2 linked regions of the Homo sapiens genome follow. The protein of the gene in region 2 interacts with the protein of the main gene of each other region in a biochemical or structural test. Each region holds a gene or a part of one and is shown on either strand. Other genes may lie near its edges. The genes, in order: DTNB and KIF5A.

Evidence for each region.
Region 1: the proteins of KIF5A (region 2) and DTNB form a complex in vitro, tested with the Homo sapiens proteins (one study listed by BioGRID).

The regions. Positions count from the first base shown.
Region 1 is NC_000002.12:25,376,742-25,380,470, forward strand, and holds the end of DTNB (dystrobrevin beta), read right to left. Parts: intron 2,583-3,729; coding exon 2,578-2,582; coding exon of another isoform or gene 2,549-2,577; intron 813-2,548; coding exon of another isoform or gene 589-812; 3' UTR 502-588; downstream 1-501.
Region 2 is NC_000012.12:57,570,355-57,574,165, forward strand, and holds part of KIF5A (kinesin heavy chain isoform 5A), read left to right. Parts: intron 1-966; coding exon 967-1,035; intron 1,036-1,706; coding exon 1,707-1,913; intron 1,914-2,225; coding exon 2,226-2,372; intron 2,373-3,811. UniProt on the Homo sapiens protein: Microtubule-dependent motor required for slow axonal transport of neurofilament proteins (NFH, NFM and NFL). Can induce formation of neurite-like membrane protrusions in non-neuronal cells in a ZFYVE27-dependent manner.

The sequences.
Region 1 (3,729 bases), on a different chromosome or scaffold from region 2:
AGCAGTTCTTCTGCTAAAAATAACATCCTGGAGCCCAGGGAGGAGGAAAAAATAAATGAAAATCACCGGGAACGGGACTTGATCACGTGTGCCCGAGCCCAATCGACCCCTAAGGCGAGAGGCTGCGAGCAGCGCCCCCGGCGGCGCGCCCCCTGGCGGCCACGGAGTCCGCGGCGCAGAGACCCTCCCGCCCTCTCCGAGGAGGCTCAGCCCGGCTGCGGCGCGCGGCTGGGTCTCCGCCCCTCCCTCCCGGGCTGCAGGCGGCGGCATCACACGGGGCGGGCGGAAGCCTAACCAGTGTGAGACTATTTTTAGCACCGTGGCCAGGGTGTGAATGTCTACAGAGCCGAGCAAGGCCTGACGCTTTCTTTGCACGCTGGAAGAAACCTGTTGGTTTTTAAAGGTCAAAGATAAGGAAACTTGTGCCCCCACGTTCAGGAGCACCCCACGTGCTGGCCAGACGCCAGGAAGTGTTTCATCAGGTCACAAACACACAAGAGCTTGGTGCTTTTTCTTTTCTCTTTTCAACCTCCAGGTGAATTCCTGATGCGGAGATGAGACCATGCCCTGAGGGGAGTGATGAAGGTGCTAGTACATGCAGGGCTGTGCAGGGGGAGGCCCACTAGCTGTGCCACGCAGCCCCTCCCCGCTTCCCACCGGCTCTGGCTCCCCTCTCCCTGGCGGGTGGAGTGACGTCTGGCAGCCTGCAAGCCTGGTCCAGGTGTGCGGTGGAAAGATGGAGAGGAATGTGCCTCTGGGGGAAGACCTTGCCTTCGCCATGTCGGCGCCAGCTTGCTCCTCGTCCTCTGTGCCTGCGCAAGACACACTCACCGTTAGTCACGGGCACTGTTGAGGGTTCAGGACAAAAGCTGCTAACATCTACTGTGAACAGGAGGCCCTGCAGGGAGGGGCTGCTAGGATGCTGGGCGCCTTTCAAGCGTTGGGCTGAAGGGTGGTACCTAGGGTCCTCTGCCATCATTCCTAAGGGTCAGGAAGTGTTTCCGTGGAAGAAAGAATTGGGTTCACAATGCAAGGTTTGAATGGGGTGATTTCTTGGGGAGAATTGTGGCCCAGGAGAAGGGCAGGGAGGACTGAGGTGTGCCGATGAATACTAAGAGGAAAGGGAGGAAGCCTCAGCCCCCGGCCAGCAGAGCGCAGGCCTGGGCATCCATGAATCCGCGGCACCCAAGTTTTATACTCTTAGTTTAACTCTCGGCTGTTGGTGTTTCTCATCACCCCTGATGTGGGTCAGAGAGCGCAGGATTAGGAGGCAGAAGACCCGGCTCCAATTCTGCTTCTGGCATGGAGCTTCTGGTGTGGGGCATTGGTTTCCTCCATGTGCAACAAGGCGGTGGGGGCACATGGCTCTGCCACGTTCCCTTGCACCCCAGTTCCTTCTGCCCCGGGGAGAGAGGGGCTCTGGCAGGCTCCTGCAGGGCGAGTCAGTTCCTGATTTCCCTCCTCGGCTGCCACGGCCTAGGCTTGCTTGGGAAAGGGCCTTGCCTGAATGTGCACAGTGAGTTTAGGGAGAAGCCTCTCTCCAAGCCCCTGGGGCGCTGTGATTTCCAGGGCAGCGAGAGAATGTGCGTGGCCCAGGTGCTGCCCTCTCCTCAGCTCGCACAATCCAGAGTCAGCGCAGGCCGAGGCTGCAGGGGCCCCGGGGGAGCGGGCAGAGGCCTTCAATGGCCTGGCGCGGTTGGGCAGAGAGGGCCAGAGGCTATTCCAGGATGACACGACTTGGGAGGGTCTGAAAAAACCCCTTTTCTGGATTGTGCAGCTAGGGCCCTGACTTCTTTATTCGAGGAAGATGCCTAATTTTTAAATATAAGAGGTGGGGGGGTGGGAGGAGGGGAGGGAAGACAAGATTTTAAAATGGAGAAGTCTGATATCTTGGTGCTGGGACTAGAAAGAATTAAGGTGTTGAGCTGGAAAATGGGAATGACTAATTCCTAAAGGCAATGAGCATCTGCCACTGGAGCAGTCCGTACTTTTCTGCATTGCTTCTTCAGGAAGTGAGAAGGTGCAGCTTGGCCGGGCACCATGGGAAGCGGCTTGGTCAGCCCTGTAGTCAGTGTGATCCTGCATGAATCACATGTCTGTGGGTCAGGGACTGTGATTCGGTGCAGTGCTGGGTGACAGAATCCAGGGACGCACTGGCTGTGGTTTGGATCCCAGGAAGGAAGTGGGCAGTGGCTGTGGGAAAGGAGCATGGGAGGCAGTGCTCCCCAGGGAGGTGGCCTTGCTCAGCACACCCTGTTTCAGCCAGCAGTGTCGGGTCTGCCAATGCCATCCCAACACAGAGGACACCAGGCCATGCCCAAGGACCAGGCCTGCAGACAGTGCTGTGCAAGACAGGACACAGCCTAGAAACAGGGCAAGGAGGGCACATGGCTGGGGTGGGCAAAGGGAAGGGACAGTTGGGCTCTTGCATCTTCACCTGTTAGGACTGCCCTGGCTAGGGACCTGTGACTGCAGGAAGGGAGGGGAAGGGAAGATGCTGAGGAAGGAGGGAGGGGCCGTGGGGAGGCAGAGGACTCTTTGTACTCACCTGAGCTTCCTCTGTGTCCGGCTCCTCTGCTAACCTGTGGCAGCATGGGCAGAAACAACACACTGAGGTCACGGCCAGGTCTTCTCATGCCCCAGACTATCTCAAAGGGGCTTCCCTGACCAACCCACCCCAGGGGCTTCCTTGCTTCTCCCGTTACTCGTTTGTTGACTTTTCCCACCCAGGTATGACAGCAGGGTAGAGTCATACTTTCTACTACTGTAGCCAACCCGAGGCAGCCATGGAGACAGATGCTTCTCAGGAGAAGGAAAGTCATTAAAAAATGGAATCAAAACTCCTTAAATCCAGGGAGCAGTTACATGAGGGGGGCAAAGCCCACTCAGCTCTGAAAGTTCCCCAAGGGAACATGACTGCGCCTTGAGTGAGGGCGGTCCCCCTCCTGCAGATGGTCTGCTTTGAAAAGCCCTGCGCTTGCTCACCCGAGGCTCGAGCACTGCCTGGCCCCTCCTGAGCCTGTTCTGTTCTCTGAGGGCCATTGCTGTCCAGCCTTGCACCAGGGCTCTTTATGGATGCAAACTGGATTTACAGCCCCCACACCGGGATGGCAGGGTATGGGAGGGGAGACTGTGAAGGACACAGGAGCATAACATGAGGCTGTGGAGGGTGGAGATGATGTACTATGGGGGAAGGTGTGTTAGTCTGTGCTTCTTCTATGTGTCTTGGTTACACTTCTCTTGAGGAGATGCAGAGGAGGAAGGGTACCCCGATGGAGCAGAAGCATTCCCCAGGATGCAGCCAGCCAGCCAGGGGTGAACAGGGAGAGGCGTGAGGCAGGGGTGAATATGGCAGGGAAGTTCAGCTTGGTCTAGATTCTTCAAAAGTTCCATTTGACTCTCACAGTTTCCTTATCGAGCAGACTATGTTTGCCTGATGGTGCTGACCAAATTCTGTTTATATTACGTCAGTATGGTTTCAACCCCAAAGAAGCAAATATACTCTCTCTCTTTACGGTTGACAGTTACAGATCTCTGGTGTCCAGGTGACTGCAGTTAGTCCTAGGTCTGTAAAATCTCAGGCCTAGCTCATGGCAGAGAATCAGGAGGTCCACCCATAAAAACACTTAGTCTTATAAAAATGCCCATGTATGAGCTACGTTGTAGTTTCAGGGACATATCCTAGAACCTATATAATGTGGAGAGCCAAACATAAAAAACTCTACCATC
Region 2 (3,811 bases):
TTGCTTTTCTCTGTGCATATACCATGCAATTGAGTTATACTGTATAAGTAATTTTTTTTTTTGAGACAGGGTCTTGCTGTGTCGCCCAGGCTAGAGTGCAGAGGCACGATTGTGGTTCACTGCAACCTCTGCCTCTCGGGTTCAAGTGATTCTCCTGCCTCAGCCTCCAGAGTAGCTGGGATTACAGGCGCATGCCACCACGCCTGGCTAATTTTTGTATTTTTGGTAGAAACGGGGTTTCACCATGTTGGCTAGGCTGACCTCTGGCGATCCGCCCGCCTCGGCCCCCTGAAGTGCTTGGATTACAGGCGTGAGCCACCGTGCCCGGCCTGTATATGTAATTATACATCTGATTTTTTTCATTCAGCATTATATTATGCACAATTTCCTACTTCATTAATAATTCTTCATAAAAGTATTTTTATTTTCATTTATTATTATTATTTTGCTTTGAGAGAAAGAGTCTTGCTTTGTTACTCGGGCTGAAGTGCAGTGGTGCAGTAATAGCTCACTGCAACCTCAAACTCCTGGGCTCGAGGGATCCCCCCCAACCTCAGCCTCTGAAAGAGCTGGGACTACAGGTGCACACCACCACGCCCAGCTAATTTTTTTTTTTTTTTTTTTTTGGTAGAGTTGGAGTCTCACTTTGTTGCCCAGGCTGGTCTCAAACTCCTGGCCTCAAGCGATCCTCCCGCCTTGGCCTTTCAATGCGCTGGGATTAAAGGCATGCACCACCAGGCTAGCTAATATTTTAAATTTTTTGTAGAGACAGGGTCTCACTATGTTGCCCAGGTTGGCCTTGAACTCCTGGCTTCAACCGATCTTCCTGTAGGATATGGGGTTTCTAACTCAAAGCTTATACTATCTGGATTTTTATCAGGATCCTGCCTCTACCCCCAAACTTCTTACGTCTAAACTGGAAGGAGTAGCTTCCCTTCACCTGTCTTTCCCTGTTGCCTCCAACAGGATGATGAAATCAACCAACAAAGCCAACTCATAGAGAAGCTCAAGCAGCAAATGCTGGACCAGGAAGAGGTAATAGGAGGGAGGGCAGGACATGAGAGGAAAGGGGTTCTGTTCATCACTGGAAGGCATGGAATAGACCTTTTTAAAATCAGATGGAAGAAGGCGCTTTCTGCTTGGGGATTAATCACTCCCCTAAACAGCAGAAGTCTGGGAACCTCACTGGGGCTTTTCTTTTCTTTTCCTTTTTTCTTTTCTTTTTTTTTTTTAGAGATGGAGTCTCAATTTGTTACCTAGGCTGGAATGCAGTGGGGCAATCTCAGCTCACTGCAGCCTCGATCTTCCAGGGTCAAGCAGTCCTCCTGCCTCAGCCCCCTAAGTAGCTGGGACTACAAGTGCACCACCACACATGGCTAATTTTTGTAGAGATGGAGTTTTGCCATGTTACCCAGGCTGGTCTCGAACTCCTGAGCTCAGGCAATGTGCCCACCTAGGCCTCCCAAAGTGCTGGGATTACAGGCGTGAGCCACTGCGCCCGGCTGGGGCTTTTCTTAAAGCACAAATTTTAAAGTCTGGGGGCTTCTTCATTCTTCATTCTGTTGCCCTATTTCTATGAAACCTAAAGCCCACTTCCTCTTAACTCTTTATTTTGGGTAGGGTGGGGGCTCAGCTTCCCAGACCCAAGGCCATAGAAATGGTCACTGGCAGTGATCTTTCCCACATGCCACTCCTCTCCCTTGAAGCTGCTGGTGTCCACCCGAGGAGACAACGAGAAGGTCCAGCGGGAGCTGAGCCACCTGCAATCAGAGAACGATGCCGCTAAGGATGAGGTGAAGGAAGTGCTGCAGGCCCTGGAGGAGCTGGCTGTGAACTATGACCAGAAGTCCCAGGAGGTGGAGGAGAAGAGCCAGCAGAACCAGCTTCTGGTGGATGAGCTGTCTCAGAAGGTGGTAAGTGGTGTGCCAATGGTCCAACAGCTCCCTGACCACAGAACATCTCCCATGTCGAGGGGACCTCTGCATCCTTCCAGGGCTGTATGGTGGCTGCACCTCTGCACTGCTGTTCAGTGCATTGTGAGTCCCTCCCCAACCCTGTCACTGCACTTTCCCCTCACAGTCCCTCTGTCTTTCAGACTCTTCTGCAGGGCCTGTGTTCTCTTCATAGCAGCCCTCAGGGTCTTGCATGAAGGGAGAGGCCTCTGCCTGGGCTGGGCAAGGGAGCAGGAGGATGGCAACAGGAATGACCTGAGGGGCTGTCCCCAGGCCACCATGCTGTCCCTGGAGTCTGAGTTGCAGCGGCTACAGGAGGTCAGTGGACACCAGCGAAAACGAATTGCTGAGGTGCTGAACGGGCTGATGAAGGATCTGAGCGAGTTCAGTGTCATTGTGGGCAACGGGGAGATTAAGCTGGTGAGTGGTGAGAGACAGCAGCCTTGTTCAGGCTGGGCACTAGTGGAAGACGCAAGATGAGCCATCCAGGCCTTCACAGATACTGAGAAAGGCAGCCAGAGAGCCAGGAAACATGCCTTTGAACTAGACCCAGGAAGACAGGTAGAGGCTTGTATAGACCCAATTGAAAAGATACATTCTAGGTTGGGCGCAGTGGCTCACCGCTGTAATCCCAGCACTTTGGGAGGCCGAGGCAGGCGGATCACTTGAGGTCAGGAGTTCGAGACCTGACCTCGCCAACATGGCGAAACCCTGTCTCTACTAAAAATACAAAAATTAGCCAGGCGTGGTGATGTGCACCTGTAATTCCAGCTACTCAGGAGACTGAGGCAGGAGAATCGCTTCAACCTGGGAGGTAGAGGTTGCAGTGAACTGAGATCACACCACTGCACTCTAGCCTGGGTTATAGAGTGAGACTCTGCCTTAAAAACAAAACAAAACAAAACTAAATTCTAACGGGTGCTGAATAAAGAAGCAATGGAGGCCAGGCATGGTGGTTCATGCCTGTAATCCCAACATTTTGGGAGGCTGAGACAGGCGGATCGCTTGAGCCCAGGAGTTCACGACCAGCCTGGGTGACATAGTGAAACCCTATCTCTACAAAAAATACAAACGATTAGCTGGGGGTGGTGGCACACACCTATAGTACCAGCTACTTGACAGGCTGAGGTGGGAGAATCACCTGAGTATGGGAGGTTGAGGCTGCAGTGAGACATGATTGAGCTACTGCAATCCAGCCTGGGTGACAGAGCCAGACCTTGTCTTAAAAAAAAAAAAAAAGAGGCTGTACATGGTGGCTCACGCCTGTAATCCCAGCACTTTGGGAGGACGAGGCGGGTGGATCACCTGAGGTCAGGAGTTCGAGACCAGCCTGTTCAACATGGAGAAACTCCGTGTCTACTAAAAATATAAAATTAGCCGGGTGTGGTGGCTCATGCCTGTAATCCCAGCTACTCACGTGGCTGAGGCAGGGGAATCGCTTGAACCTGGAGGCGGAGGTTGCAGTGAGCCGAGATTGCACCATTGCACTCCAGCCTGGGCAACAAGAGTGAAACTCCGTCTCAAAAAAAAAAAAAAAAAAATTTGGGAGGCCGAGGCGAGGTCAGGAGATTGAGACCATCCTGGCTAACACAGTGAAACCCTGTCTCTACTAAAAAAATACAAAAAATTAGCCAGGCATGGTGGCGGGCGCCTGTAGTCCCAGCTACTCAGGAGGCTGAGGCAGGAGAATGGCGTGAACCTGGGAGGCGGAGCTTGCAGTGAGCAGAGATGCGGCACTGCACTCCAGCCTGGGTGACAGAGGGAGACTCTGTCTCAAAAAAAAAAAAAAAAAGCAGCAGCAACAGAGCAGTGCTTGCAGTAGGAGTTAGAGGTGGGGCATAGGCACAGAGTTCAGAATG